Linked DNA regions of Homo sapiens: region 2 is linked to region 1. The links come from fine-mapping of genetic effects on gene expression. Tissue or cell type: whole blood. Region 1 holds a variant in brackets; the other region holds the start of a gene. All regions are shown on one strand. Distances are between the middles of the regions.

The links. PIP is the estimated chance that this variant, and not a neighbour inherited with it, causes the effect.
Region 2: it holds the start of MFAP4, and the variant in region 1 is the best candidate, but not a certain one, in a credible set for the expression of MFAP4 in whole blood (TOPMed, PIP 0.75).

Annotation. Positions count from the first base shown.
Region 1 is chr17:19,288,551-19,292,933 of GRCh38, forward strand. The region is part of intron 4 of EPN2 (epsin 2); the gene reads left to right. Among named protein-coding and RNA genes, the nearest start is that of EPN2-AS1, 16 kb to the right of the region's middle. RefSeq lists an enhancer at 1,070-1,663. The variant C/T (reference allele first, on the strand shown) is at 2,144.
Region 2 is chr17:19,384,717-19,389,099 of GRCh38, forward strand. It overlaps MFAP4 (microfibril associated protein 4), which reads right to left and starts at 2,474. Exons shown (of 6, transcript NM_002404.3): 1 at 2,434-2,474; 2 at 2,044-2,122; 3 at 1,594-1,748; 4 at 642-738; 5 at 383-565. The coding sequence starts at 2,439. RefSeq lists enhancers at 762-1,307, 1,308-1,853, 1,854-2,399.

The sequences.
Region 1 (4,383 bases):
CAGCTGTGCAAAGGCCCTGAGGTGGGAGTGTGCTCAGGGTGTTTGAGAAAAGGCAGCCAGTGAGGTGGCGATGAGTGACGGAGCATGGCCAGTATGTGGGGGTGGAGCGTGGCAGAGGTGGGCCTGGAGGAGGTGTGGGGCAGGGCCTCTCAACTCTGTCTGGTTGGGAGCATTCCTTGAATTCCTAGTCCATCCAGACGGGTCCTTTTGTGTCCATGTTTAGATGTTGTGCCGATGTCATTGCTAGGAGCTTTTGAAACACTTTCACTGTGCTTACCTTGCAGACCATGCACTCAGTGGCCCGGTGCTGGGCCTTCTGGGTTTATGTCAGAAATTTCTTTGACTTTCACTCACAGTGAGATGGGGGAAGATGAGGGTTAGGAGGATCCCTTGGGGTGTGTATGGGCAAGGTGGGAGCAGGGAGCCAGGTCAGGAGGCCACTGTCCCCATCCAGGTGGGAGATGGTGGGGGTCTGGACCTGGCAGGGCTGCAGAAATCTGGGCAGTAGCCAGGTTCTGGGTATGTTTTTTTTTTTTTTTTTTTTTTTTTTTTGAGACAGAATCTTGCACTGTCACCCAGGCTGGAGTGCAGTGGCACGATCTCCGCTTACTGCAAGCTCTGCCTCCCGGGTTCACGCCATTCTCCTGCCTCAGCCTCCCAAGTAGCTGGGACTACAGGCGCCCGCCACCACGCCCGGCTAATTTTTTGTATTTTTAGTAGAGATGAGGTTTCATCATGTTAGCCAGGATGGTCTTGATCTCCTGACCCCGTGATCCGCCCACCTTGGCCTCCCAAAGTGCTGGGATTACAGGTGTGAGCCACCGCACCTGGACGATTCTGGGTATGTTTTAAAGATGACCTGACAGACCTTGCTAGAGGACTGGGCAGAGTGAGAGGGGAGCTGAGGATGACTCTGAGGGCTGGGAGCAGAGCAGCTGGAGGCAGAGCTGCCATCATCTGAGATGAGGGCGGCTGTGGGTGCAGTAGGTTAGTGGAGGGGTTGAGTTCAGGACACATCGAAGTGTCTCCTAGACACGCAAGTGGAGGTGTCAAGAAGGTCTGAGAAGTCTGGAGTTGGGGGGAGAATTCTGGGCTGCAGGCACACTTTGGAAGTTGTCAGGGCATGGACAGTGCTTATAGCCGTCAGCTGTTCGGCCTCACCTGGCGCTCATGGTTTTTTTTTTTTTTTTTTTTGAGATGGAGTCTCACTCTGTTGGCCAGGCTAGAGTGTAGTGGGGTGATCTGGGCTCACTGCAACCTCCGCCTAGCTGGCTTCAAGCTATTCTTCCTCAGCCATCTGAGTAGCTGGGATTACAGGCACATGTCACCATGCCTGGCTAATTTTTGTATTTTTAGTAGAGATGAGGTTTCATCATGTTGGCCAGGTCTTGAACCCCTGACCTCAAGTGATCTGCCCAGCTCGGCCTCCCAAAGTGCTGGGATTACAGGCGTGAGCCACCATGCCTAGCCTCTGGCACTCATGTTTACTTGGTGGTCTTGTAATTTCAGACACACCAGCTGCCCTCCCAAGGCTGGCTCCTCTTAAGGCTTACCCGTGTTGGCTGCCCTCACATGATCCTGGCATGTAGTCAGTGCTCAGGACAGTTGTGTGTGGGCAGAAGCTGCGCAGCCCAAAGGAGGACCCTCAGGCCCAGGGGGTTGAGGGATTTGCCTAAGATCACGCAGAGATGGCAGCTGGCCTGAACTGCAACCTGGTGGGGGTGAGCAGCCCACATGTTACCCGCCCCCCGGGCTCTTTCCACCATTTCCTGTTCTGTTCTGCAGAACTGGCCACAGTGTCAAAAGGCTTTGGAGAAATTACAGAAGTTCTTGGGGTAGACGGAACCTACATCAAAGGGAGGCAGATGGGGATGAGAAAAGCATTCCTGAGTCAAGGAATGGAAAGAAAGATTGCTGCTGTCCTCTCACCAAGGACACTCTAAGGCCAGGGGCCAGATCTTCTGCCTTGGCTGGCCTCTGTTGAGGGTGGGTAAGGGAAGGAAGGAATGCTCAGCTTGGTGTTCTCAGCCCCCTTGCTGAGTCTGCGGAGCCAGAGCTACAGCTGTCTTGATGCTCCCTGAGCAAGTCCCGAGTTGCCTGGTACCTTGCAGTTCTTGGTGGGAGTTTAACTGCCCAGCATTCC[C/T]GTTCTCAAAAAAAAAAAAAAAGAAAAAAAAAGAAAAAGGAAGGCAGGCAGAATAGAAATCTTCATTGCTTTCTGATTCACTCAAGTGAATCAGAACCAACTTGGGTTCTGAAACCAAAGTAAGCAGTGGTGGGCTTTGTACCAGGTGGGGGCTGCTGCCTGCAGCCGGGTCTTCTTGGCTCTCCTCATGGCCCCTCCTGTCTTGCTGACGCCGCTGGCCCTGGCTGTAGTATGCTTCAAGTCTGCTCCCAGAGAAATGACAGGGATTCCTTTGGGCTACTGGTCCTCTGGGCTGAGAGCCCCTTGTGCTGAGGCTGCTCCTCTCACACCCCACCCGGCAAGGGTTTGCCAAGTGATTACTAGAAAGGATTTGAGTTGGCTTATAAAACACATGCAATGCCACAGGATTCAATAGATACCAGAAGAAATTGGGGCAAAAGGAAAACAGAGGTGAGAAAGAAAAGCCAGGATTGTATACAGTGGCTAGAGATGGATCCAAATTTGGTTTGATACTGTGCAGCTGGGAAGGCCAGAGTGTCAAGCAGCCTGCCCAGGACTTCATGGAGCAGTGGCCGTGATCATTGTCCTGCGGCATCACCCCAACAGCTGCTGCTGCTGTCCGCCAGGCCTTCGGGCCATGCCTCCACTCTCGAGTGGCCTGGCAAGAATCTAAGGGGAAACAGGATTTCTCAGGGAGTGGAATGGCAAGGCTATCCACGGTTATCAGCCATTCATTTTTTTTTTTTTTTTTTTTTTTTTTTTGAGACGGAGTCTCGCTCTTTCGCCCAGGCTGGACTGCAGTGGCGCTATCTTGGCTCACTGCAAGCTCCGCTTCCTGGGTTCACGCCGTTCTCCTGCCTCAGCCTCCTGAGTAGCTGGGACTACAGGCGCCCGCCACTGCGCCCGGCTAATTTTTTTTTGTGTTTTTTGTAGAGATGGGGTTTCACCGTGTTAGCCATGATGGTCTTGATCTCCTGACCTCATGATCCACCCGCCTCGGCCTCCCAAAGTGCTGGAATTACAGGCGTGAGCCATCGCGCCCGGCCTCATTCTTAAACCCAATGGGGACTTGGTAGAATTTGAAAGCTTTCTTGTGCGCTGTTTCATGAGTATGTCCAGGAAGTCCCCAGGCACAGTGGGCCCTCAGAGGACTCTCTACGGAAGCTGTCTTCATAACAAGGGAACCTCAGGGGTGAACCAGAGTTGTCATGGCCTCAGCCCTGCTTGCCCAGCTCTGGGAATAGAGCTGAAGCATGCGCACACACAGACACATGTGCACTTACACCAGACATGTACACACAAAGGAGAGTGTTTTGGTAAGAAGGAGGCATCTGAAAAGGGAGTCCTACATGGGTCTACTTTTGAAAACTCAAAGATGTGGGAAAATATATTGTTAAAAAAAAGAAAAGCCAAACCCAGCCAGCGTGTCAGAAGTGCTTCTGAGGTGGACCTTGGAAGGATCCTGGGCCAGCTGAGGTCTCCTGAGAGTGTGGGAGGTGACAGAGCTCCAAGGTGCAGGGCTGAGTGATGCTGCCAGGAACTAGGAGGGCAGCAGGGCCCGCCCGGGGCTGAGAGGTGGTTGGTGGCCACCAGCCAGGTATTTCCTAGTGTCAGGCCAGGGATAGCTACCTGTGGGGAGTGTGTCTAGCCCTCAGGGCCCTTCCATTGGGTTTTGGGGATGGACCAGGAATTTGGTGGGAGATGAGACTCATTTGGCATCTTGTTTTGGTGGAACAAATGTGTTCTGTAAGTCAGGGGAGCCCTGCATCTTCGGCTGGCAGTCAGTCCCAGGGGCAGAGGCACAGCAGGGCTGTCAGCGTTAGCTTACTCTAGAGAGAGTTAATCTCTTCAGGTGGAAAATTGAGTCATGGAGGAAGCTGATCAGTAACATGAACACACCCTCAGAGGCAGCAGATTTATTGACACATCTATCCAAGTATCAGGTATAAAAGATGCTCGTTCTTGCCACAAGGGCTTGGGTTTTAAGTGGGATTTGAATGTGATTCGTGAATGGCTGGGCTGCTAAAGTCAGACAGTTGCCCAACACAACCAGAAGGCATCTGGATCACCTCTCCTGGGCCTTTGCCTTCTCTTAGGAGGAGTCCATTTGCTTCTCACAGTTGTCTAGAAGGTAGGCAGGGCAGATGAGGTTAATAAGGAAACTGACATGAACTTGCTCCCCTAAATCCTCTCATTTGTAAGTGAAGAAGCTAGAATTAGAACTGGGATTTTGAAGAACT
Region 2 (4,383 bases), 96 kb after region 1:
AGGAGAGAAGGGTTGGGGCTGCTGAGGCAGGGAACTGAGCCCCGAGCTGGCCGGGAGAGGGTGACAATGACGACTGTGAGAGATATCACGTGGCAGCCTGGCGGGATGGGGGCACCCTCCCTGAGCCAGATGTTGGGTTGATGTGCTTCTGCAATGAAGAGAAACAGCTGCTCCACCACAGAGTTGCCTGGAGCAGGGCCAGGATGGCTGCTCCCCAGGGCTGAGGCCCAAGCTGGTTTGAGCTTGTTTGGAGCCAGCTGTGGCCCTTCCAGATCCAGAAGGGTTGAAGGAGGGGCCTGAAGGAGGTTGGGGCTGACTGGGCAGGGCCAGCCCTGCCTTCTTTCCCCTCACAGCCCCTCCCAAAGCTAACAGCGGGTTATACCTGCCCCGCCATCCTCAAAGCCTGCCACAAAGAGGGTGTAGCCATCCTCCTCTGCGCTGACCGCGTTCGGGGAGATGGAGAAGTCAGCGTACTTGGCATAGGCCGTGTTGTTCTCAAAGTCCTCCAAGTCCACTCGCAGCTCATACTTCTGCTTCAGTGTCAGGAGGTGCATGTTCTGCAGCCCTGGGGAGGAGGGGCAGCTGGTCAACAAGGACCTGGCCCTGGGGCAGCCCCTCAGCCCACCTGGTCCCTGCCTTACCCAGCCAGTACTCTCCATCAGCACGGCCGAAGCCCAGCTTGTAGTCATTCCAGCCGCGGAAGAAACTTACTGAGCCATTGAATCTCTTCTGGAAAACCTGGAGCAGAGAAGATGAGACTGGATCATCAAGGGTCCAATGGGCAAGGTTCTGGTCCTGCCCTGCCCACCTCAAGCATGGACCCTGTGATGCTGTGGCCAGTTTGTTAAAGGACTGGGTTGGGGGTGGGGAGGGTGGTGGGAGTGGGGTTGCTAAAACAACGTCCACATTGGCACCAGGCCCCCTGTGGAGCAGTTGCCAGCACCCACCTGGGCTCTTCATACCCAGTTTCGTATAGAGGCAGGAAAGAGGCTAAGAGGGAGGCGTTCTAGAGTTCGAGTGCCTAGCTGTGGGATCTGGGCAAGTTACTTCACCTCTCTGGGCTTTAGTTCCTCACTACTTCCCAGGATTATTGTGAGGCTTATGTGCATTAACCTACCTCAGCTGGGCGCGGTGGCTCACGCCTGTTATCTCAGCACTTTGGGAGGCTGAGGCGGGCGGATCACCTGAGGTCAGGAGTTCAAGGCCAGCTTGGCCAACATGGTGAAACCTCATCTCTACTAAAAATAAAAAAATTAGCTGGGCATGGTGGCACATGCCTGTAATCCCAGCTACTCGGGAGCCTGAGGCAGGAGAATCTTTTGAACCTGGGAGGTGGAGTTTCCAGCAGTGAGCTGAGATGGAGCCACTGCACTCAAGCCTGGATGACAGAGTGAGGCTCCGCCTCAAAACAAACAAACAAACACCTACCTCAGGCACTTAGAATTAAGCGTTGGCAGCTGCTCAGAAGCTGTGCTGTGGGTATCATTATCCCCATTTTAAAGATGAAGAAACTGAGGTTCGCATATGTGAAGCCCAGGGTCACAGGGCTGGGATTAGAACCAGCTCTGGCCTCTGTTCCCTCCTCCCACTCACCGTCCACTTCCCGCCCTCGGTGGTCATGTCACAGAAGACGGGCACAGGCACACTGGGGCCCGAGGGGTAGATGAGGTACACGCCGTCTGACTGGTAGCCCTGGGCATAGATGTCGTCACAGTCCAGGGGTTGCTGAAGGCAAAACCTCTCCAGAGCTGGGGGTAGGGACATGGGGACAGTGAGGAGAGTGGGACTATGGCATCACTGACACCTCAGCACCCCAAGGTTTGCCTCAGTCCCTGGGGCTGGGGGACTTTGACACAAGGAGTCATGGAAGATTTCTTCAAGGGAGATGAGCAATGCTTATGTCATCCATCTGCCCCATTTTGTAAAGGAGGAACCTGAGTCCTGCAGAGCTGGGGCTCGGCCCTGACAGTCTGTTCTGACAGTCCAGCCTCTTCTTGCACAACCTGTGGGCCAGGCCGCGTCTGTGAGTGTGGGGCTGCTTACCATCTCCTCGGATCCCGGAGACCTGGGGGGCACACGGGGGCGTGGAGAGAAGCAGCAGCAGCGGCAGGGCCAGGAGTGCCTGGCGATGGGCAGACAGGGTCAGCACAGCCCCTTCCCAGCTCCAGAGATCCCCTGTTCTCTTTGCATTTGCCCCCACCATGCATGCACATACTGCCCTTGCCTGAATCCCTCTCCTGCTATTTGGCCCCTCTTCCCTGCCCCCCCACCCCGCCCGCCAAGTAACCCCACTCTCTGGGACGCTGTGTACCCTCATAGCTTACGAGTTTCAAGAGAACTCCTTGTGCCTTCATAGTGCCCTCTGTGGCCAGGGGCCTCTGGAGTGGGCTCAGTTCCCCCATGCTATGAGTCCCCCGACCCTGGGCCCCGTACCTTCATGCTGTCAGTTCTGCTCAGAGTGGCTGGGTGTCTGCGGCCCCAGACTGCAACCGCCCAGAGTTATGCGCTGGGCCCCCGCCAGCCGCCCCAGCCCCGCCCCCCTTCCCGTAGCTGCAGAACCCCCCTCTCCCCACCCCAGACAACCAGCATCAGTTTACACTATCAGGGGGCTGGGAGGTGGGGCTGGAGCCAGGGGACCACCTGTGTCTCATTAGTCCTGTCGGGCAAAGTACTGCAGACGTTAACTCCCTGCTGGCTCCAACTGTTCCCTGGATCCCACTCCATCCGCTATCCGCCATCTGCCACCCACCCTGCTAGACCTGTGGGCCCCCTGGCGCCCCCAGGCAGCCCCAGCCCGCCGCAGCCTGCCCCCTACTTCCTGATGGGCCCCCCTGCAGATGTCTGTTTATTCTTTCCCCTCCTTCCCTGGCCTGTGTTTCATCAGCCATTGAGGGGGAGGGCTGAGGGAGAGTGGGGGTGTCATATGCCTGGCTTCTGGGGACGGGAGGCCTGCTCTGGGGGAGCAGAAGGCTGAGGGGACAGTTTCAGAGCTCCTGATGTGGGAGCCTGGCTGGGGCTGGTGGGGGGACAGAGGCAGCAGTTTCTTGGCAGGCCTGGGACATTTCTGAGCCATGAGCACAAGGCTGCTGGCGTCCAACTGCTCTGTCTGCCCCAGCTCAGGCCAGGGCCCCTCTCCAGTCCCCCTCCCCAGCCCCCCTCACTCTGGCCACCTCAGGCCCACTCTTTTCCCCTCCCACAGTTCCCTGGCCCATCTGGCTCACATGCAATAGGTATGGGACCTCTTTTGTTTCTCCTCACTCCACCCCTCCTTTCTTCTTCCAAACCCTTCACTTTGGCTCCCACACCTCCCAGATTCATCTGAATCTCCCTACTTCTGGGCTCTCTCCTCCTATCCTTGGCACACTACCAGGAGAGTTGTTCTAGATGGCCTCTCAGATTATGTCACCCTGCTTAAAGCCTCATGGCTCCCTATTGCCTCAGGGCTGAGGCTAGGTTTCTCACCTTGGACATGAAAGGAATTTCAAGTCTGTCTCTGGCCTACCTTGAGGACCTTGTCCCTTATTGCTGTGACTCATAAACTACAGTGCAGCCACTCCAGACTTTTCACCATGGAGGTCCCCACTCTTTTGTGCTGCTCCTTGTGGTGCCCGCTCATCTGCCTCCTTTTGTTGGCCATAAGGGCCAGTGAGCAGGGTGTGTGTCTCATTTCTGCATGCTCAGTGCCCATCACAGAGCCTGGCACAGAGTAGGCTTGATATGTACATGCACAGTCACTTACGTATTTATATCTATATATAGATAAGATACTAGAGTCAGGGCCTTGCCCTGTTGCCCAAGTGCAATCATAGCTCACTGCAGCCTCAAGCTCCTGGGCTCAAGTGATCCTCCCACCTCAGCCTCCTAAGGAGCTAGGACTACAGGTGTGCCACCACACCCAGCTAATTTTTTAATTTTTTTGTAGAGATGGGGGGGGTCTCCCTATGTTGCCCAGGCTGGTCTTGAACTGGCCTCAAATGTTCTTCCCACCTTAGTCTCCCAAGAAGCTGGGACTACAGGGCCAGCACACCTGGCTCACAGATATCTTTTGAGCGCTGTGTGCTATAGGCTATGCTGGCTGCTGAGGATACAGTATCTGCCCCACAAGGAGTGGCAAGCACAGGTTTTGGACAGTGAATTGCAAATGTAAGGTGTATTACAAAAGGACATTTGTGTTGAATGGATGAACAGATGAAATATTCAAAGGCAAAGTGATGAGGCAGCTCTGGCTTAGGTCCCATCTCTCCACTCCTGAGTCAATAGATAAGCCCCTTGGCAAAGCCCCAGTTGGCCTCCCTGACTTGGTTCTGTGATTGCCTCTATTCATAGTTGTGTCTTGTGTCAGGCTACCTCAGTTCAAATCTAGATTCTGTTGCCTGTTAGCTG